Regions from separate parts of the Homo sapiens genome. Here all the other regions are linked to region 3. The links come from fine-mapping of genetic effects on gene expression. A gene starts in region 3. Each other region holds a variant in brackets. All regions are shown on one strand. Distances are from middle to middle.

What was found. PIP is the estimated chance that this variant, and not a neighbour inherited with it, causes the effect. A credible set is the group of variants that fine-mapping cannot tell apart.
Region 1: its variant is the best candidate, but not a certain one, in a credible set for the expression of AP4E1 in whole blood (TOPMed, PIP 0.59).
Region 2: its variant is the best candidate, but not a certain one, in a credible set for the expression of AP4E1 in monocytes after R848 (Quach 2016, PIP 0.57).

The regions. Positions count from the first base shown.
Region 1 is chr15:50,801,136-50,809,052 of GRCh38, reverse strand. No RefSeq gene overlaps it. Among named protein-coding and RNA genes, the nearest start is that of SPPL2A, 39 kb to the right of the region's middle. The variant C/T (reference allele first, on the strand shown) is at 3,275.
Region 2 is chr15:51,070,038-51,077,954 of GRCh38, reverse strand. The region is part of intron 1 of TNFAIP8L3 (TNF alpha induced protein 8 like 3); the gene reads left to right. The region is part of intron 1 of MIR4713HG (MIR4713 host gene); the gene reads right to left. Among named protein-coding and RNA genes, the nearest start is that of TNFAIP8L3, 21 kb to the left of the region's middle. RefSeq lists enhancers at 69-363, 628-1,184. The variant G/A (reference allele first, on the strand shown) is at 4,714.
Region 3 is chr15:50,903,719-50,911,062 of GRCh38, reverse strand. AP4E1 (adaptor related protein complex 4 subunit epsilon 1) reads right to left here and starts at 2,380. Exons shown (of 21, transcript NM_007347.5): 1 at 2,135-2,380. The coding sequence starts at 2,284. RefSeq lists enhancers at 1,304-2,045, 2,092-2,261, 2,282-2,571, 2,046-2,787.

The sequences.
Region 1 (7,917 bases), 100 kb after region 3:
TCCCCCAGCCCTAAGCCCTGAAATGCGTATCATCTGGCACAAAGACATCGTTTACATTTGTTGAATAGCTGCGTGCTTAGACTTGATCCGATCTTATTCACCACTTATACTGTAAGTCTCTGAGTGTACCCAACAGGAGTCTATTCCTCTTTTTTCAGAATTCAACAGTCTTTAATTATGTCGTGTCCAGTGTTGCTCATACTTGTTTCATGCATGTGAATCTCATCTACCTGGCTATAGTGTAAGCTTATAAGGACTGTCTGAGTCTGATAAATGTTTTACCTTTCCTAAAGTGCTGGTAGCATGACATTTACAGATGCTACTTGACTTACCTTGGGGTTACCACCTGCTAAACCCATCCAAGTTGAAATACCTCGAGTTGAAAATGCATTTAATACACCTAACCTACTGAACACCACAGCTTAGCCTGGCCTACTTTAAACGTTCTCTGAACATTTACATTAGCCTGTAGTCAGGCAAAATCATCTAACACAAAGCCTATTTTATCATAAAGTGTTGACTATCTCAAGTAATTTATTGAATACTGTACATTACTTCAAAATTGTAGTGGTTTCGTACCATCATAAAGTTGAAAAATCGGAAGTCAAACCATCATAAGTAGGGGACGGTCTGTACTTAGCGATCAATTGCCTAAAAGGTTTTTTGACACTGTATTAGGAGATATGATCATATTCCTGCTACTCTGATTCCCCTGGAATCTTGGGTAGGAAAATGTTTGAATTCCTTAGGCTACTCTAAACAGTTCAAAGCCCTGAGAGTCTCTTCCTCTACAACTACTTGTTGCTAATGAAGCTTTTGCCTGTTGATTGAAAGAGTCAGACCTACAGTGAAAGCATTAACCTATAGAATAGATGGTCTCTGGCATAGCTGATACTGTCAGTGCATCACCCACAGCTTCTCTGATCCTTTTTTTATTAGCTCTGGGGCCCATCTCCCACTTTCTGTTTGGTTTCCTTTCAATCAATCCACTTCACTATTATTCCCCGAAACCCAGAATTGTCCCAAGGGAACCATAGCCATTGCCTGAGTAGTGTCTGAGTATGAAAGCAAAACTTATTTGCCTCAAAGCTAGATAAGCCTGAAGGTATGACTTATGCTCCAGAGCTCTCCACAGGATCAGGCTGAGGCCAGACATCATCTGAAATTGTACCTTTGCTTGGCTTCTTTCCCCCTTCCCTATCTTACTCCTCATTCTCTTCTTAAATTAGTGAGGCAATTAGGATCTGTACTTAATAGTGTCTGGGTTGTAGCATAAAAGTAATGAAAAAAAAAAGCTTTGTGTTCCATGATTTTAAATGTTACAGTTTAATAAGTCTTTGTTATTCCCTCAGGATGTGTATCTTTGGAACTCACAACAAGCAATATAAACCATCAACAAAACCAGACCTCAGGAGTCTTTCTGCCCTACATTTTAGAAGGACACATTCTGCCCTGAGCAGGATGATAGGAATAAAGAAACAGCACTTTGGGAGGCCGAGGCAGGCAGATCACTTGAGGTCAGCAGTTTGAGACCAGCCTGGCCAACATGGTGAAACTCCGTCTGTACTAAAAATACAAAAATTAGCCGCATGTGGCAGCGCACACCTGTAATCCCAGTCACTCGGGAGCCTGACGCACAAGAATTGCTTGAACCCAGGAGGTGGAGGCTGCAGTGAGCCGAGATTGCACCACTGCACTCCAGCCTGTGTGACAGAGTGAGATCCTGTCTCGAAAGAGAGAGAGAGGAAGGGAGGGAGGGAGGGAGGGAGGAAGGAAGGAAGGAAGGAAGGAAGGAAGGAAGGAAGGAAGGAAGGAAGAAAAGGAAGGACAACAAACAATAAGAACTGACCAAATATTTAAATATTTCTTTTTCTTTTCTTTTCTTTTTTTTTTTTTTTGAGACAGTCTTACTCTGTCACCCAGGCTGGAGTGCAGTGGTGCAATCTTGGCTCACTGCAACCTCCACCTCCCGGATTCAAGCAATTCTCCTGCCTCAGCCTCCCAAAGTAGCTGGGATTACAGGCACACGCTGCCACGCCTGGCTAATTTTTGTATTTTTAGTAGAGACGGGGTTTCACCATGTTGGTCAGGCTGGTCTTGAACTCCTGACCTTGTGATCTGCCTGCCTCAACCTCCCAAAGTGCTGGGATTACAGGTGTGAGCCACTGCACCCGGCCCTGACCAAATATTTCACAATCAATTCTAATTTATTTACAGATGACATTTATCTATTTCCACTTTTGACAGTGCTTTTCTGATGAGCATCTTAGTGGCTTTTTGGAATTAAATAATGCAAAATGAGTTCGCTAATCCCTTAGTGCTGTCCAGCATACAGTCCACATTTCAATAAAATGCTGCATGATCACTTTATAGAAATGCATCCCCTAATGGCTCCAATTCCCCTCTTACTATATCCCTTGTAATACTTTGGATTCTCAAAAACAAATCTCAGGATCTATTCTAATGAATGGAATACTTACATAACACCCTTTGGCCAGCAATTTCACAAATTTGATTTTTAAAATTTATTGGCTGGGCGTTGTGGCTCACGCCAGTAATCCTAGCACTTTGGGAGCCGAGGTGGGTGGATTACCTGAGGTTGAGAGTTCAAGACCAGCCTGGCCGACATGGTGAAACCCTGTCTCTACTATAAATACAAAAAATAAGCCGGGTGCAGTGGCTTGTGACTGTAATCCCAGCTACTCAGGAGGCTGAGAGAGCAGAATCGCTTGAACCTGGAAGGCAGAGGTTGTGGTGAGCCGAGATTGCGCCACTGCACTCCAGCCTGGACGACAGAGCAAGACTTCATCTTAAATAAATAAATAAATAAAACAAAAATAAAATGTCTTTAAAACTCTTAGATGTGGTAGATGCTGGTGGATGGTGAAAAGAGCACAAGCCTTGAAGTAAGACAGCTCTGGAAATGAATTCTAGTTCTTCTCCTTATTTTATGGCCTTAAGCAAGTTGTTTGATCTTCCTGAGCTTCAGTTTAATTTCCTTAACAAAACCGTTATGAATAAATGAATGGGCCAAGCGCGGTGGCTCACGCCTGTAATCCCAGCACTTTGGGAGGCCAAGGCGGGCGGATCACTTGAGATCAGGAATTTGAGACCAGCCTGGCCAATATGATGAAACCCTGTCTCTACTAAAAGTACAAAAAAATTAGCTGGGCGTGGTGGCGTATACCTGTAGTCCCAGCTACTCTGGAGGCTGAGGCAGGAGAATCGCTTGAACCCAGGAAGCGGAGGTTGCAGTGAGCCAAGATCATGCCAT[C/T]GCACTCCAGCCTGGGCAACAGAGTGAGACTCCATCTCAAAAAACAAACAAAAACAAAAAACAAAAATTAGGCCAGGCATGGTGGCTCATGCCTGTAATCCCAGCACTTTGGGAGGCCGAGGCAGGTGGATCATCTGAGATCAGGAGTTCAAGACCAACCTGGCCAACATGGTGAAACTCCATCTCTGCTAAAATAAATACAAAAATTAGCCAGGGGTGGTGGCAGGCACCTGTAATCCCAGCTACTCAGGAGGCTGAGGCGGGAGAATTGCTTGAACTCAGGAGGCAGAGGTTGCAGTGAGCCGAGATCGCACCATTGTGCTCCAGCCTGGGCAACAAGAGCAAAACTTTGTCTCAAAAAAAAAAATTAGCCAGGTGTAGTGGTGCATGCCTGTAATCCCAGCTACTTGGGAGACTGAGGCAGGAGAATCACTTGAACGCAGGAGGCAAAGATTGCAGTGAGCCGAGATCGTGCCATTGCACTCCAGCCTAGACGACAGAGTGAGACTTCATCTCAAAAATAAAAAGAAAATGAAAAAAAGAAATGAATGAGATAATATGTATCTGTTGGGGGGGAACTGAGATGTTAATCTGTGTTTTGCTCAGGCTGCTGTAGGTATTTTTGCCTCACTCATCTGAAGAAAGTAGCCCTCTGCTTCAGGGAATGGTTAATAGCCCTAATGTCGCAGGGCCAAAATTAAAAGTTGCCTGACACTTAGAATACAACCTTCTATCTAGTCTTGGAGGTGATATTGCTGGATTATTGGAGGTGGCAGGAGGCACCAAGGGTTGGGAGAAGAAGTAGACCAATACTGGAAATAAAGTTATTTGGGGACTATCTCCCCAAGTTTAGGAGAAAGTGCTTATAGGTTTCAAGAAAATCAGGGACATGTGTGCTCCCACACAGTACTTGGGTCCAAGGCCTCTGATCGTGATAGCTGACTTGGCAGTGTGCCGCACTGCAGGGGGCAAGAAGGGTTGGTCACTAGACTTCAAGTCTTCCAATTTTAGTATACACCTCTGGCTCAACCTGTGCTCAAAAGTAGAGGAATCGCCAGGCATGGTGGCTCAAGCCTGTAATCCCAGCACTTTGGGAGGCTGAGGAGGGCAGATCACGAGGTCAGGAGATCGAGACCAGCCTGGCCAACATGGTGAAACCCTGTCTCTACTAAAGACACAAAAAATTAGCCAGGCATGGTGGTGCACACCTGTAATCCCAGCTACTTGGGAGGCTGAGGCAAGAGAATCGCTTGGACCCAGGAGGCAGAGGTTGCAGTGAGCCAAGATTGCAACACTGCGCTCCAATCTGGGCAACAGGGTGAGACTTCGTCTCAAAAAAAAAAAAAAAAAAACAAGTAGAGGAATCACCTATCCACAAGGACAGAACCACCTGTACACCTAGGAGAGATGAGCTCTTGTCCTGGGTCCCACACTTTAGAGAGCCCTACTCTGGCCCTCCATGGGATTGTGCCCCTCTTTATGGGAGAAGAGGTCCACAAGGGGCATGTCCACCTGGAGCCCACACCTCACCCTTGTAGACCGTGCTTCATCTAAATGGGACCCCAGAATTCCCAGCCCAAATGGCCTGAACTATTTCCAGGTCCTGAGCCAGTCTCTTTCCAGGATTTACATTCCTGAAGGCAGCCATGCCTCTGTGTACACGCCTTCACATGAAGGACAGTTAAAAGGTGACTTTTTGGCAGGAATGGGGATTGGTGAACAGAGCTTGGATGTGTAAGCTGGTCTACACACACATGCATGCAAGTTCCTTTATTGTCCTGAACAGAGCTGGGATGGGAAGTGAAAGAGGGGAAGTGTAAGAAGGAAAAAACGCCAAATATACAGGAAAAACAAACTATTTTTTTCTATCCTCACACCACTCTCAATACATCATGTCTGTCACCAGATGTGTGGGGTTTTGTTCCCATACTAAGCCACTCTCCAATTCTCTATGGACACCAACTGGGAATTAAACTCACTTCTGACACTATCTAGTGGGAGTCAGTACAGATTCCAAAGATTAAGGGCTCAGTCCCACAAGACTGCCCCCACATCAACTACCAATCACAAGTCCAGGTTGCCACCTGTGCTTCTGGCAGACTGTCTATAAACCAGAGGTTCTTATGACCTCCTCCTTAGGCTCAATCATTTGCTAGAATGGCTCACAGAACTCAGGGAAACACTTTACTTACATTTACCCATCTATCATAAAAGATACAACTCAGGAACAGCCAAACAAAAGAGATGCATAGGGCAAAGTATGTGGTGAGGGGCATGCAGCTTCCATACCCTCTCTGGGTATACTGCCCTCCCAGCATGTCCACACATTCCCCAGCCTGGAAGCTCTCTGAATACTGTTCTCCTGAGTCTTTATAGAGGCCTCATTATATAGGCATGACTGAATAAATCACTGGCCATTGGTATCAACTCAATGTTTAGCCTTCTCTCCTGCCTGGAGGTCAGGGGATGGGGCTGAATGTTCCAACCCTGTAATCACCTGGATGGTTCCTCTGCAACCAGCCCCCATCCTTAAGCTATCTAGGGGCCACTGAGAGATGCCTCATTAGAACAAAACACTGCAATCACCCAGGAAATGAAGCTCTGTGTAGGAAAAGGAAGAAGACCCAATATATATTTCTTATTATTAATCACAATATCATCAGAGGCCAAAGCTAGGGCCTAGGGCCAGCTTTTCTTACACCTGCACATTCAGATGCAGAAGCCCAAGAAGTCCTCAAATTCTAAATTTGAACAAGGACTTCCAGCTTGTTATGAAAATATATTTGTCAAGACAGAATGACAGAACCTATTTAAGAGGTTGTCAGCTTGATTTATAACTTTCTTTTTTTTTTTTTTTTTTGAGGCGGAGTTTTGCTCTGTCGCCCACGCTGGAGTGCAGTGGCGCAATCGCGGCTCACTGCAAGCTCCGCCTCCCGGGTTCACGCCATTCTCCTGCCTCAGCCTCCCCAGTAGCTGGGACTACAGGCGCCTGCCACCACGCCTGGCTAATTTTTTGTATTTTTAGTAGAGACGGGGTTTCACCACTTTAGCCAGGATGGTCTCGATCTCCTGACCTCGTGATCCGCCCTCCTCGGCCTCCCAAAGTGCTGGGATTACAGGTGTGAGCCACCGCACCTGGCCTGATTTATAACTTTCAAATATTTAATATAAACTTCCATTTGTATTCTCATCCTAGACCCTGAAAATATTAGAAGTGGGCCAGCCAAGAAACCACAGGACTAGGATCAACACCCAGCAGTGGTAGCCAGTGTGGTCTGAAGACCAGAGGGCTCACCTCTGAATATTCTGGAATGTGTAGGACCCTGGGAAGGTGAAGATACCCTAGGAAATGCCCCCCTCCTCAAAGTAAACATGACAAAACCCAGATTTCCCATCTCCCTTGACCAATGTGGTACAGAGCCAGATTTAACTTCATTTAGAATAAAAATGGGCAAAGACTTTTGTCTGTCCTGTTCACTGCTTTCTCCCTCCATAGCACTTAGAACAGTACCAATATACTTTTTTTCTTTCTTTCTTTCCGTTTTTTTAGAGACAGGGTCTCAGCATGTTGCCCAGTTTGGTGTTGAACTCCTGGCCTCAAGCGATCCTCCTGCCTCAGCCTCCTAAAGTTCTGGGATTACAGGCATGAGCTACCACGTCTGGCCCCAATATACTTTTTTTTTTTTTTTTTTTGAAGCAGAGTCTCGCTCTGTTGCCCAGGCTAGAGTGCAGTGGCATGATTTTGGCTCACTGCAACTTCCACCTCCTGGGGTTGAAGCAATTCTCCTGCCTCAACCTCCCAAGTAGCTGGGATTATAGGTATGCGCCACCACACTCAACTAATTTTTTTATTTTTAGTAGAAACGGAGTTTCACCATGTTGGCCAGGCTGGTCTCGAACTCCTGACCTCAAGTGATCTGCCTGCCTCGGCCTCCCAAAGTGCTGGGATTACAGGTACGAGCTACCGTGCCTGGCCCCAATATACTTTTATTGGATTAATGAATTCTTGCTCCCAGTGTGAGGGACCAAACTCTTGCCTGCCACATGTGTAAGCTCCTGTTTTTTGTTGTTGTTTGTTTTTTTGTTTTTTTGAGACAGAGTCTCACTCTGTCGCCCAGGCTGGAATGCAGTGGTGTGATCTCGGCTCACCGCAACCTCCACCTCCCAGCCTCAAGCGATTTTCCTGCCTCAGCCTCCCGAGTAGCTGGGATTACAGGCACCCGCCACCACACCCTGCTAATTTTTGTATTTTTAGTAGAGACAGTATTTTGCCATGTTGGCCAGGCTGGTCTCAAACTCCTGACCTGAGGTGATCCACCCACCCCAGCCTCCCAAAGTACTGGGATTACAGGCATGAGCCACTGCTCCCGGCCAAGCTCCTGGTTTTGTGCTACCACATATTAGGTGTCAGTGTCAGGTACTTTATTTTATTTTATTATTTTATTTTATTTTAGAGACAGGGTCTCACTATGTTGCCCAGGCTGGACCCAAACTCCTGGGTTCAAGTGATCCTCCCACCTCAGCCTCCTAAGTAGCTGGGGCTACAGGTGCTCACCACTGCCAGGCACGTTTTCTTTGTGCTGAACACTATATGATACTTATTTGTATCTAACTTGTCAGATGAATCTAGAATACTCTGTTTA
Region 2 (7,917 bases), 170 kb before region 3:
AAGATGAGGTCCGCAGACACATTGAAAGGTGAGGGGAGCAGAATTTATTAAAAGAAAGCTCTCGGAGAAAAAAATAAGTGGTCCTGCTAACAGGCTTCCACCTCACAGACTGAATTCCAGGCCAGCACACTCGAGCTGGAGTCCAGGCTCCTCCCCCTGCCCAAGGCGCGAAATCCTGAGGCTCCGCCCCCTGTTCCCCCAGTGCGCATGTGCATATTATTAAGCGAGAAGCTGTCGGGGAAGGGAGGGCAGACAAGGGTGTTCTCCCTCTGGGTTGCGGGTTTCTTACGGGACCGGCAGTCGGGTCTTTCAGCTTTCAGACTGTTTTAGGCTTGAATGGGGTGTTTTGCAAGGGACCCCTTGGCTGTCTCCTGTCTCTATCAAAGGTCTCCCCTCTCGGAACTGCCAGGGTACAAACAATTGAAGCCAGGTGGGGGTTCCTTGACTAGGCCCCCTTGCATAAGATGGGAGCGGGGTGGGCAGCAGGGCGTGCTTGGCTTAGGGAGGAGCTGCGCTGAGCAAAGCGGGATGAGAGGCTGGGGAGACAGGCGGGGCAGCTGGGATATGGGACCAGCGGGAAGGGCTGGCCTTGAGGTTTCGGACACGAGTCCCACCCACAGCTACGTCAGCACAGGGCGGCCTGCCGGGGCCTGGGGGCCTGGCAGTCTGTGGTTTGGTCTGTGGGCACTGAGGCCAACACAGGAAGAGGCCTTGGGGAGAGCCAGCATGACGCCTGCTGACCGCACGCTCTGTGGCGAGCACAGGCCAAGGACTGACAGAGGAGGCTGAGGTCTAATGGAGGAGTCAAGGGCCCCAGGGAAACAGGGGAGGGAGCAGCATTTTGGAGGGAAGTCACAGATAAGGAAAGCTGGAGGCTCCAAGGTCGATGCCCCAGGTGTTACACAGTGAGAAAGAAGCAGGAGGATTCCATTTACGAAGAATGGCGGGAGTAGAATGGGGGGCGGCAGGAATCCAGCACGGGAGAGGAGGAACGCGGAGGACCTCTCCACAGGCATCAGCGCACATCTGATGCGTGCCCAGATGATGACAAAAATTCAATTTATCATACTTAAGGGGTTACTATTAAATTGAGAAAGCAAATTAGCAGAATCTTCTAGTCTGCTTTCTCATTTAACAGACCCAGAAACCAGCAGGTAAAGAGATGGGCCCATGGCACACAGTGAGTGCGCTGGGGGTGGCAGGGGCAGGGCAGGGCTGGAGGCCGGGCTCTGTCTTCCACTTCCTGCTGCTGGCTCAGTGGCAAAAGTCAGGACCAGGACTGGGCTCTCTCGTTTTCCCTGTATCCGAGGAGCTAGCTACTCCATGGATACACCCTGGCATCTTGATTGTGCAGGACAGCCATTCTCAGCATCTTTGAGTGACCACACCTGGTGATTTGGTTGGAAAACAGTGAAACCTTTTGGTGGTACTTCTTTACGTTACCATGAAGTATAAAAAATTCTATTCTTAGCCATTTGTGGCCTTAGAGTTTAATTTAGAAAGGAAGCCTGAGAGAAAGTCACATTTCTGAGAAACTTCCAGGAAGTTAAGCCTCCACAGCTAGTTGGCCCCTCCCATTACGTGATGTGAATGGGATTCCCCCTGGACTCAGAGTGGTTCCATCACAGTAGCGGTCCCAGCAGAGCTTAGGAGCCCAACCTCAGGAGATCTTGCGGGTGTCATCCCACCTCCCATCTGCTAACAACATCCCTCAACACTGTCATTCCACAGGCCAGATATTGACCATGACACCAGCAGATATTAAAAATGTGGCTTGACTTGTCTTAAATCCGTAAACAAAACCAGTTTTACTACAGAGTATATGTAAGGGAGATTATAAGCAATATATTACATGTCCCTTTCCTGCTGTTCCGCATTCAGATTGACTGAAATCCAAAAATGTCATTGTTCAGGATTCATATTTCACTAAAAAAAAAATCAAGTAGAACACTGAGGAAGCCATAATGCTGTCTGCCAAATCATCTCCCATACAGAAGTACCTTCTGGTTTCTTCTCCCTCGTGTGTTCTGACCTCTCAAGTACAGCTAACAGTTTGTCTAGTTGTTGTTAAGCTCACTAAGCTGAGGGTTTACATGTTACTACATTAATTAATTAGAGCACCTTCCAGTAGCCTCAGTCCACTGTCACAGGCCATGTTTTGTTTCTTTTTTCCAAGATAGACGAGTTTGTTCCATTTTATTGTTTTGCACATTTTAGGTTCTGCATCCATCCTCCAAAAATTACAGCATTCCAAAGACTGACATTTTTATTGCATTAGACTGTTTACTAATTTCACATATTACGGTGTTGGCATGCTCCCATGGCTCTGAATGTGGCATCCTACTGGTGTCCTTGTTAGCAGTCTGGTGTTCTGAGCCTGAGTTCTTGGGTGCCTGCCGTGGTAGAGAAAGTTTGGGAGCTGCCAGCAGAGAGAGAGAGGATTGCCCAGAGAGACAGAACGTGGACTGTGCTATTCCAAGCCCGACAGCTCCTGAGTATATTAAAATAGCTCATGAGTGTGAAGGGGCGTAAATGGGGAGGCTCCAGGGGTGGCAGGAAGGAGGGGTGCTTCTGCCATGGAGAAAGGGTTTACTGCTGGAACTGAACACTGAGAGCATGGTGGGCAATCCCTCTGGCCCCCAGGTGATGCTGCTGTTGTTGGGTCAAAGACAGGCAGAACCCAAGTGGGCCAAGCAGATAGCTCCGTATGAAAGGCAAAGGGTGGACCTTGTGCTTAGTTCAGAAGGCATTTGAGTACATTCAGTTCCACCTGCACATTGTGAATATGCACCTCCTTCCAGGTGTGGGTCCTGAACTGATGGAATCTGAGCCTCAAAGAACAAGAACAAACACGCTAAAATCATTCATCAGTCATTCATTTACTGAGACATATATACAAGACATATACTGAGTAACTTCTGCATAGTAGGCAGTTCTGCTTATGGGGATTCACAGGTCTTCTGAGCATCAATCCCTAAGAACTCAGCACCGGATGCGGAAAGTAGATGGCCAGTCGCAGTGCAGCACAGGAACAGGGCTACCACTGAGCTAGGTGTGAGGGCCAGCCTCCCTGACAAGAGGGATATAAGGGTTGGCCAGGGGCTCATGGTGGGAGGGGACCTTCAGCGGCAACAAACAACCTGTCAGCTGTGCCTCTTCCACCTGGGCGAGGGTCCACTGGATTCAGCTATGGCACGAGAGTCAGGGCATGGCTGGCAGCCAGGGCAGCACCCTTAGGGAGAGCTGGCTTGACTTCTGGTACTGTTTGGCTGTCATCCCGACTATTTCAGCCAGTTGGGTTAGGGCAAAACCATTTTTGTGAAGAGTTGAGCCTCCTTTTGGCTTTGAATTGGGCAAGCAGGCCTCTGGTAGGAGGGATGGGATCCGGTGGGCAGAGCCAGAGGTCTGTTCATGGAGCTCCTCTTCAGTATCTCCTGTTACTTTGTTACTTAGGAAGGAGCATTAGAAGGGAATCCTACCATGTGCCAAAAGGCACCCTTTTCCCCAACAGGCAGCCTGCTGCTAGGTTGTTACTTTCTGCAGATACTTCATAGCAAAAACTGGAAACAGTTTGAAACCTACCAAGAGGGGACCAGTAGAGAAAATGGTGGCATGTGCTATTGTCAAAAAACAATGATGTAGTACATTTGTTGTCATGGAAAGATATCCTCAGAATGTCGAGTGAAATGCAGGCTAGTTTTACTAAAACTGTCAAAAAACAGTTAATCCCCACCTTACATAAACACTCTCAGACACAGAAAAAGAAGGAAAGCTACTCAATCCGTTTTATGGGACTAGTCTTCTCTGACATCAAAATTTGACAAAGATAGTACTATGAAAAAGTTATAGACCAATCTCACTTTTGAGTATAGTTGCAAAATGCAATATTTACTAGTAGAATTCACCAGTATAGTAAATACATATGCATCATTGACCAAGTAGGGCTTATCCTGGGAATATAATGATGATTTAAATCAAAAAGTCTTTGAATAATTGGTTAAATTTACATATTATAAGATAAATTATATGATCATCTCAGTGGATACAAAGAAATTGTTTGCTAAAATTGGATACATTTCTACTTAAAAGCAAACAATGCCTTAGCAAAATAGGAATAAAAGGAAGATAACTTGATAAGGGGTATCCATCAAAACCCACAGCAAACATTGCATACTCAGGGAAATTTTAGAGACAATCCTGTTAAAGTTAGGAACAAGACCAGGATGCCATGTAATGCTATTCAACACTGTGCTGGATGTTTTCTACCGGTGTTATAAAGCAGGAAAAAGAAATAGGGGGTCAAAGAAAACAATCATTTTGTGTAGGCAATGTTGTCTACATTAAAAAGTCCAAGAGATGCTATATAAATTAGAACTCATAACAGAGCTCGGCAAAATGTCTCAATTGGAGATAAGTATACAGGGATCAGTTGGGTTCCTATGCATCATTAATAACCATTTAGAAACTGTAATAGAAAAAAATTAACAGCAGCAACCAAAACTGTAAGGTAGCTAGAAGTAAATCTAATGAAAGATATGCAAGAGATTTATGGAGATGACTGTAAACATAATTGAAGGACACAGAAGAAGATATGACTAAATGGAGAGACATGTCATGTTAATGGAGAGGAAGATTCAGTATCATAAAGATACCAGTTTAGGCTGGGCGTGGTGGCTCACGCCTATAGTCCCAGCACTTTGGGAGGCCAAGGCA[G/A]GCAGATCACCTGAGGTCGGGAGTTTGAGACCAGCCTGACCAACATGGAGGAACCCCATCTCTACTAAAAATACAAAATTAGCCAGGCATGGTGGCGCATGCCTGTAATCCCAGCTACTCAGGAGGCTGAGGCAGAAGAATCGCTTGAAACCGGGAGGTGGAGGTTGCAGTGAGCCGAGATTGCACCATTGCACTCCAGCCTGGGCAACAAGAGCAAAACTCTGTCTCAAAAAAAAAAAAAAAAAAAAAAAGGATCCCAGTTTACTTCAGATCAACATAGAGTGCTCATGGCATTTGATCATATTATCCTAAAATTCCTATGGAAGAATAAAGGCAAGAATAATCAAGACAGTTTCTAAGCAGAATAAAGTGAGGGTGAGGAGGGGCACTTCCCTTTGGACTATCATGACTTACGAGTTATATTAAGAAAACTTGGTTTTTGTACTGAAATAGACCAGAGTCTAATAAACAGAGTAAAAAACTCAAAAACAGATCTATGCAATATAGAAACCTGATATGAAAAGAAGGGGCCTACCAGATAGGTAGCAGAAGTATGAACTATTCAATAAATAGAATAAATCGTGGGGAGAAAAAGATTCCCAACCTCATGCAATATGTACAGATAATTTTCAGATTGATTAAAGACCTAAATGTGAAAAACAAAACCTTTAAACCTCTGGAAAATATATGGTTATCTTTTATCACCTCATGGCAAGAGAAGAATTTTTAAAATGAGATACAGAAACCACCAACCATCAAGGAAAAGATTGATAAATTAGACTATTAAAATTTTAGATTTCTGGCCAGGCGCGGTGGCTTATGCCTATAATCTCAGCACTTTGGGAGGCTAAGAGGAGGCAGATCACTTGAGATCAGGAGTTCGAGATCAGCCTGACCAACATAGAGAAACCCCATCTGTACTAAAAATACAAAATTAGCCGGGCATGGTGGTGCATGCCTGTAATCCCAGTTACTCGGGAGGCTGCAGCAAGAGAATTGCTTGAAACCAGGAGGCAGAGGTTGCGGTGAGCCGAGATCGTGCCATTGCACTCCAGCCTGGGCAACAAGAGTGAAACTCCATCTAAAAAAAAAATAGCTTTCTGTATGATTAAAGACACCATAATAAAGTTAAAATGTAATGCTACAGACTGGGAAGAGATAGTTGCCAGCCCTGTGATCAGCAGAGGCTTAGAATCATAAGCAAAATATACAAAAAAGAAAAATATATATAATTCAACTGAAAAAATGAGTAAATTATATGAACAAGCAATTTGCAGAAGAGAAAAACCTTAATGCCCAATAAACACAAATACATTGACTCTCACCAGCAATCAGGAACATGCATATTAAAACAAGGTACCATTTTATACCTATCAGATTGGCAAAAATTAAAAAGTTGGATGATTTGAAGTGTTGATGAGGAAGTGCAACCACAGGAACTCAAGACACTGCTGCTGGGAGTGAAAATGAGTGCAGTCTCTCTGGAGAGCCATTGGCAGCCCTTGCTGCTGCAGGCCTTGGCAATCAAGTTATAGGTATAGACCCCAGGAGACTGTTGTGTGTGTGCGCACAAGGAGACACTTTTTCCTTGCAGAAAATGGAAAGAACTTAAATGTCCATCAGGAGGAAACTTGAAGATATATATTTATATAAGCAACTAAATGATTAAACAAGATAAATCTTGAAAACAGGATGTGGAATAAAGAGTTGTAGAAGGATCTGTGTAGTATGACACCTTCTGTGTGAAATTTAAACATGATGTTGATGCATGCATACTTATGAAATGAGACAAAAGCATAAAAACGTGGATAGATGAAAAAAAAATACAACTTCTGTAGTGCAGTTTGATCTGGGAGCTAGAAGCAGAAGAGAGGGAGTTGAAAGCAAAGAGGGCTTTACCTCTCCCTGTCTTTGAGGGTAAACTATTAAGAATTTTTCCACCTGAGTGGTGACCACACAGTGTTTGTTAAATTATGTTCTATTTTGGCCATATGTTTGAAATGCTTAATATTTAAAATATTAACAATTGTTCCATCTGGGTGGTGGCTACACAGTATTTGTTAAATTATCTTCTATTTTGTTTATGTTTATGTATATGTTTTTAGGCATTACATATTTTTATCTATTTATATGTTTGAAACACTTGGTGGTTTTTAGAAAATTAATTCTTTTTTTTTTTTTTTTTTTTTTTGAGACGGAGTCTCGCTCTGTCGCCCAGGCTGGAGTGCAGTGGCGGGATCTCGGCTCACTGCAAGCTCCACCTCCCGGGTTCACGCCATTCTCCTGCCTCAGCCTCCCAAGTAGCTGGGACTACAGGCGCCCGCCACTACGCCCGGCTAATTTTTTTTTTTGTATTTTTAGTAGAGACGGGGTTTCACCGTTTTAGCCGGGATGGTCTCGATCTCCTGACCTCGTGATCCGCCCGCCTTGGCCTCCCAAAGTGCTGGGATTACAGGCGTGAGCCACCGCGCCCGGCCAGAAAATTAATTCTTGTGAGGGAAAAATACTGCTCAATCTCCATCTTAAAGTGGGCAATAATTCAGAAAACATTTAAACTAATTGATGTTTGTCACCCCATGCATCGCAGCTCAGTGTGGCAGGCTGAAGCACTGAACTCAGGCAGACTCTGGGGCAGAGTCTGCCCAATCCAGCTCTGCCACTTTCTAAATGGTGGATTCAGACAAGCTACTTAATCTCTCTTTGCCTTGGTTTCCTTGATGTGAAATGCTGCATCCATTGCTATCGCTGACATTAGTGCCTACTTGATACAGTTGTTGCAAGAATATGATGGCTTAACTGTGCATAAAGCACATGGAAGAGCAAGCACTTTATTATTATTATGCCTGAATATAATCTACCATTCAGAAAGACACTAGTTATTTGTTAGATGCAAGGGATTTGGGGGAATGAATAAGCTTCATTTAAAGAAATCATGTAAGTAGATGTTGTTTTTAGTGATGGTTACTTTTCTGCAGTGAGCCAAAAATATCTCTCAGATCTCCAAAATTAACCTGTTGATTTGGAGATGATTCACCCCCCAGTGGCTTCACAAGTATCTGCTTCAGTGAGCTCTGGTAAGTAAAATTATCAAACACTCATTCACTTTTCAGAGCTGGCTGTAAAATCAATATGAAAAGCAACATTAATATGTAACTGTTGAAATATACAGAATTCCCTCTAAAAATGAAAGCTACATCTATCTTC
Region 3 (7,344 bases):
TAAGACCAAAAATAACTTTTTAAAAAATTTTATTGAGGATCCCTTAAAAATTAGCAAAGGACAAAAACCTTAAGAAAAACAACATTATTAAGGCCACAAATGGCCAGGCGTGGTGGCTCACGCCTGTAATCCCAGCACTTTGGGAGGCCAAGGCCAAGGCAGGTGGATTACCTGAGGTCAGGAGTTCAAGACCAGCCTGGCCAACATGGCGAAACCCTGTCTCTACTAAAAATATAAAAATTAGCCGGGTATGGTGACGTGTGCCTGTAATCCCAGCTACCAGGGAGGCTGAGGCAGAAGAATCACTTGAACCCAGGAAGCAGAAGTTGCAGTGAGCCAAGATTGCACCACTGCATTCCAGCCTGGGCGACAGAGTGAGACTCCATCTCAAAAACAAAACAAAACAAGACAAGCCCACAAGTAATGATTCTGGAATGTGAAGCAGGTTCTCTCCGGATAGCATCAACTTATTAGAGCTGCCAAAAAAATATTTTTTTTAAACCTTCAGAGCACTTTCTTTTCTGTCTTTCCTTCTCTTTTAGCACTTCTATTGCATTGTAGTCATGCTTATACTTGTCTTAAGCCCAAAACGAATGACTAATTCCTTGGGAAAAGGGAATGTGTTTAATTCTATTTTCCTGTGTCTAACACATAACCTTGTTCCATAAACATCTGTTGAACAAATAATGACATTAACACGTGCTCTTTTTAAGATATAAACTCCTTGTAGCTGTGAATCGGTATACTACACAATCCGTGCAACCATCGAGCGCCTGTGGGGGCCCGGCGCGGTGGCTCATGCCTGTAATCCCAGCACTTTGGGAGGCCGAAGTGAGCGAACACTTGAGGTCAGTTCAAGACCAGCCTGCCCAACATGGTGAAATCCTGTCTCTACTAAAAATACAAAAATTAGCCGGGCGTAGTGGCATACGCCTATAATCCCAGCTACTTGGGAGGCTGAGGCAGGAGAATCGCTTGAACCCGGGAGGCAGACGCTCCAGTGAGCCAAGATCGCACCATCGCACTCCAGCCTGGGCGACAGAGCGAGACTCCGTCATTAAAAATTTAAAAATTTTAAGGCCGGGCAGGGTAGCTCACGCACGTAATCCCAACACTTTGGGACGCCAAGGCGGGCGGATCGCGAGGTCAGGAGATCGAGACCATCCTCGCTAACACGGTGAAACCCCGTCTCTACGAAAAGTACAAAAAATTAGCCAGGCAGTGGCGGGCACTTGTAGTCCCAGCTACTCGGGAAGCTGAGGCAGGAGAATGGCGTGAACCCGGAAGGCGGAGCTTGTAGTGAGCCCAGATCGCGCCACTGCACTCCAGCCTGCGCGACAGAGCGAGACTCCGTCTCAAAAAAAAACAAAAATTAAAATTTTTAAAACCTTAAGGCTCCAGCGAGCCGAGATCGAGATCGCACCATTGCACTCCAGCCTGGGCGACAGAGAGAGACTCCGTCAATAAAAATTTAAAAATTTTAAAAGTTTAAGAATTTTTATAACTGCTCATTTTCAAAGCCCACTTGAGGCAGAGACTTAGCAAATTTTACATTTTGAGAGAACTGTGCTTTTTCTTTGCCCAACACGTTGTTGTAACCCAAGAACCTCAAGCTCCCCAAAGATATTCAACAAGAGGCTCACAGGATCTCTTCAGGTATGCGACATCTGAACTGTTGTTCAGTTGAAGGCACCGGGGGAGAGAAGGAAACTGAGTAGGGAAAAAAAACTTTGTGGAAGGTAAATAATGTCTGACACTTCCATCGCACTAGGTATTTTCACACGCTTGACATCTCACCCAATCCTCAAAACAAACAAAAAACCTATGAATTATGTATCAGTACTTTTCCACCACAACGTTGAGAAAACACACGGAGGCTCAGAGGTTACAGAGATGTGCCCCCGATCAAAGAGTCAGTGTCAGAACTAACTGTGGAAACTCGGCTTCCCTGCTGTCAGTCCCAGCAGGAAAGTGAAGCTTCCAGGCAGACGAAAGGACGAACCGACACAGCAGCCCCTGAGCCCCGCCGGAGGGCTAACCCCAGAGGCCCTGAAGTCTCGCCGCCCGGCCAGGGCCTCCTGGCGCGGGGGCCTCACTCCGATGTCCCTGAGCTCCCGGGCCGGCGGGCACCTACGTGCTTGGAGGTGAGGGCTGTGATGCCGCGGACAAGGCTGCCCAGCCTCGAGGAGAAGGACGCCTTGGCGGCCGCGGGCCCACCACCGGGCTGGTTCTGCAGAAAGAGTCCCGGCAGCGCCGTCAGCGTCTTCTCCACTATGTCGCTCATCGCCGCCGCCGCCCGCGATGCCGCCGCCGCCCGCGATCCCGTAGCCGCCCGGCTTCATGCCCGGCCGCCGCTGCCGGCCCGGCCTCCGTAGGCACTTCCTGTTTTTTGAATAAGAAATCTTTATTGGCGTCCCACCTGAACAAGTTCAGCGTCGTTCTCGCGAGAGGCCACCAGAGGGCGCAAGAGACCGCGGGGGTGGAAAAGGCCGCTCGCTCGAGATTGCGCGCGTAAGTAGACCTCCTTTCTCGCGACGGGGTAGCGGTTCCGGAATCCCCCAGAACCGTGAGTCCTCCTGAGGAAGCCGTCGGGGGCCTGGCCCTGTTAGGCACTGTCTCCCAGAGTCCCCCTTTCCCACTAGCCGCCTCCGCGTAGCCCGAGACCGCGTCAGGAGTTGCGTCTTCCTGGCTGCGCCTTTTTCGGGACGTCCCCGCGCCGTCCGCCGCCTCTCACTGTCCCCGGAGCGCGCGCCACCCGCCCGCTTCCCACAGGCGGTTTCACGCGGGTCCCCGGCGCCGCGCGCGGCTCCGGCCCTGGCGACTCTTGGGACACCCGAGTAGTTGCGTGATAGCGGGGCTGTCCTGAGGATTCGGCGTGCCAGGTTGAGAGCCCGTCGCGTGCCGGGGACTCGCGGCCACTGTCGCTTCCCGTCCGCCCCTCTTCTCCTGGGATTTGGGGAGGTGGGCGGGAAAGAGAACTGGTCGGCGGCCACCCTTGCCGACTCCTCCTCAGCAGGTCGCAGTTGAAAGGTCATCCTTCTAGAGCCCACTCCCCTGGCCCGGCGGGCAAGGATAGGTCTCCAAGTCCCACCCTCTCACAGCGCTCGGTTCTGTTCCACTTTAGAACAGGTCGCAGTTGCCACTACGTAAACAGCTCCCCATAGAGAGAGTATTTTATTCATTCCGATTGCTCCGTCTTTTATCTAGAACAGAGTCTGGTACAATGGCTCTCGAAATGTGGTCTGGTGACCTCAGGGTCGCTGAGACCCTTCTAGGGAATTCACAAAGTCAAAACAACATTGATAACGTTTCTTACGTGTTATTTGCCGTTTTTACCCTCATTCTGTTGGAAATGTACAGAGTTTTCAAGCGGCTAGATGACGATTGACTAGCTGGTAAAATGTATCCTGGAGTATCCTTGTGTTTTCTAGAATTTTCTAAGGTAGTAGGTTTAGGGCATAAATACGTGCGTTTTCAGAGATTAATGCAATTTGCTCTCAGTACTCCTAGTGTGTTTCTAGGAGGTAGGTTAGGTAGGTGGTGATAGCCTCCCTTCAAGGGGAACAAACTTGCTAAATAAATAGAACAAACCAGCCCATAGTGTACAAACCACATCCGAGGCTCCTGGTTAGAAAATTTTGCAGCAAAGAGGTACGAGAGCAGAAGGGAAAATCCCCAAACTCTCACAAGCGCAGAAACCCATGATCAGTGTCGTTGGGCTGAATTATACTCATTATAATAGTAAAAAAAAAAAAAAAAAAAAAACACCACTCCTGGGTGAAGATTTAAGATACTAATAAGACATGCAGTGTATGTACTAGCATATACAACCACAGCGCACATGGCGACAGAAAACCAGAGAACGTGCTTAATAGCAGCACCCGTTCTCCCCGCTTCATGAATGATCCTGTGAGACTCCTACAAAGGGAGTTTCCCCAGTGTCAGTGCATGCTGTCTCACCTTTGAGCAGCCCGCTCTGATCAGCTGTGAGGGTGTACTTTCGCTTTGCAATAAACTCTTTTGCTTGCTTTTACTTTGGACTTCAAAATTATTTTGCACCGCGAAGTCCAGAACCTCAACCGGCCCACCAGCTACAGCTACACTTACAAGCTATCTTCGGTTATACCTGCTCTAATCTCTGTAACCTCCTTGTCACCTAATAAATGAGTTTTTTTGAAATCCTGAAGTTGTTTTAATACCTATATGGGAACATAAGAAAAAAGTTCAATTTGTTGGCTTGTCTCGCAAGAATATTTTTTAATATATTGAGAACATTTTAAAATATTTAAACTTTATCTAAAAGGGATACTCATTTATTCATTTAATTTTTTTTTTTTCAGAGTCTCGCTCTATCACCCAGACTGGAATGCAGTGGCACAATCTGGGTTCACTGCAGCCTCCTCCCCCTGGGTTCAAGCAATTCTCCTGCCTCAGCCTCCCGAGTAGCTGGGATTACAGGCGCCCGCCACCATGCCCGGCTAATTTTTGTATTTTTAGTAAACACAGAGTTTCACCATTTTGGCCAGGCTGGTCTCGAACTCCTGACCTCAGGTGATCCGCCCACCTCAGCCTCCCAAAGTGCTGGGATTACAAGCGCGAGCCACTGCGCCCAGCCAGAAAGGGATACTCTTTTAGAATTTAATTTTGTTATTTTATTATTATTTTTTGAGATGGTGTCTCGCTCTGTTGCCCAGGATGGAGTGCAGTGGTGTGATCTCGGCCCACTGCAACCTCCGCCTCCCAGGTTCAAGCAGTTCTCCTGCCTCAGCCTCCCGAGTAGCTGGGATTACAGGTGCGTGCCACCACACCCGGCTAATTTTTTGTATTTTTAGTAGAGATGTGGTTTCACCACGTTGGCCAGGATGGCCTCGGTCTCCTGACCTCATGATCTGCCCGCCTCAGCCACTCAAAGTGCTGGGATTACAGGTGTGAGCCACCACGCCCTGCCTAGAATTTAATATTTTGTCGTCCGGGCGCGGTGGTTTATGCCTATATTCTAGCACTTTGGGAGGCCAAGGCGGGCAGATTGTCTGAGCTCAGGAGTTCCAGACCAACCTGGCCAACATGGTGAAACCCCGTCTCTACTAAAAATACAAAATATTCGGACAGGCACGGTGGCTCCCACCTGTAATCACAGCACTTTGGGAGGCCAAGGTGCACAGACCACAAGGTCAGGATATCAAGACCAGCCTGGCCAACCTATGACTCTACTAAAAAAATACAGAAATTAGCCGGGCATGGTGGCGTGCGCCCGTAATCCCAGCTACTCGGGAGGCTGAGGCAGGAGAATTGCTGGGACCCGGGAGGCGGAGGTTGCAGTGAGCCGAGATTTCACCACTGCACTCCAGCGTGGGCGACAGAGCAAGACTCCACCTCAAAAAAAAAAAAATACAAAAAATTTAGCCGGGCATGGTGGCACACCTGTAGTCCCAACTACTTGGGAAGCTGAGGCAGGAGAATTGCTTGAACCTAGGAGGCGAAGGTTGCAGTGAGCCAAGATCGCACCACTGTACTCCAGCCTGGGTGACAGAGCAAGACTCTGTCTCCAAAAAAAAAAGGAATTTAATATTTTATCTTTAAATTAAATTTTGTTTTATGTATAGTTTTTTAATTTTAGGTTCTTCCATTGGCTTAAAAAGGGGATACTAGAAGATTCGCTTTCTAACCTTCCCGTCTGTAAAGATGCCGAAAAAGATGAAGCTGACATCAGTATCAGAATTCACTGACTCAGGGAAAGGGAGAAATCTGGTCGAAACTATAAATAACAAAGGAAAGTATGACAAAAGCTTCTTTCTTTCCCTTGGCATTAGAGATGTTAATCACTTGCCTTATTTTATGTCATTCAACAGAACATTTTCAAATACTATTATGGTGCCAATCAAGTTGAGGCATCATTTTCAGACCAGTCAGAATTTAAAAGAAAGGGAATTTAATACTTTCAACATAGAGATGATATGCTTTATAAAAGCCAAAGCTTTTGTATTACCATTTTCAAAGTAAAAATGAAAAACCTACTGAAGCATCTTACACATGAAATTATTATATTTCATTGATAGGAGAAGGACATGCAATAGCTAAAAGACTAATGAATGCCTGCTAGCTGATAATCAGTAAAAGAACTCATGGGAGTGCTACTTTCCAAAGATGCAATAACTCACCAAATTAGACATTTAGTTGCAGGCCAGGCGAGGTGGCTCATGCCTGTAATCCCTGAATTTTGGGAGGCCAAGGCAGGCGGATAACTTGAGATCAGGAGTTTGAGACCAACCTGGCCAATATGGTGAAACCCTGTCTCTACTAAAAATACAAAAAAAAAAAATTAGCTGGGCATGGTGGTACATGCCTGTAATCCCAGTTATTCGGGAGGCTGAGGCTGGAGAATCACTTGAACCTGGGAGGCAGAGGTTACAGTGAGCTGAGATGGTGCCACGGCACTCCAGCCTGGACAACAGAGCAAGACTGTCTCAAAAAAAAGAAAGAAATTTAGTTGCAAATATAAAGACTGAGTTACTATGTCATCTGCAGAATTATAATTCCTTTAAAATGGACATAATTATTCATGTAGCTGGACTTGTTGCTTTGCTTATACCCATCCAGTGTCAGCACCAACTAATTCTTGAAGATCCTCTTTTACATAAATCTTGACAAGAAACACAAGTGGTGATGAAATAATGTATTGAACAACTTCTTTGAATCTCATAGTTTATCCTGGAACAATACACTCAATTTTTTTTAAGTCAGTTTCACTTAAGAATATCCTTGATGAAGCAGTAAGAATTCTTAATTTTATTAAATTTCAGTCTTTGAGTGCACTTTTTAAAAAATTTTTTTTGTGACAAAATGGGAAGTACTCATAAAGTACAACCTCATAAAGTATAAACTCTTAAATCCTGAGGCTTTTCTTTTGGCCGGGTGTGGTGGCTCAGGCCTATAATCCCAGCACTTTGGGAGGCTGAGGCGGGCAGAGCACCTGAGGTCAGGGGTTCGAAACCAGCCTGGCCAACGTGGTGAAACCCCATCTCTACTAAAAATGCAAAATTACCTGCGCGTGGTGGCACATGCCTGTAATCCCAGCTACTTGGGAGGCTGAGGCAGGAGAATCACTTGAACCCGGGAGGCGGAGGTTGCAGTGAGCTGAGATCGTGCCATTGCACTTCAACCTGGGCAACAAGAGCGAAACTCCGTCTCAAAAAAAAAAAAAAGAAAAAGAAAAAATTCTTGAGGCATAACTGAGATAAGATAGTTTCTCAAGGAAAAGCATTTGTATCATTGTTTAACTTGAAAGCTGAACCGGCCTGGCACAGTGGCTCATGCTTGTAATGCCAGCACTTTGGGAGGCCAAGG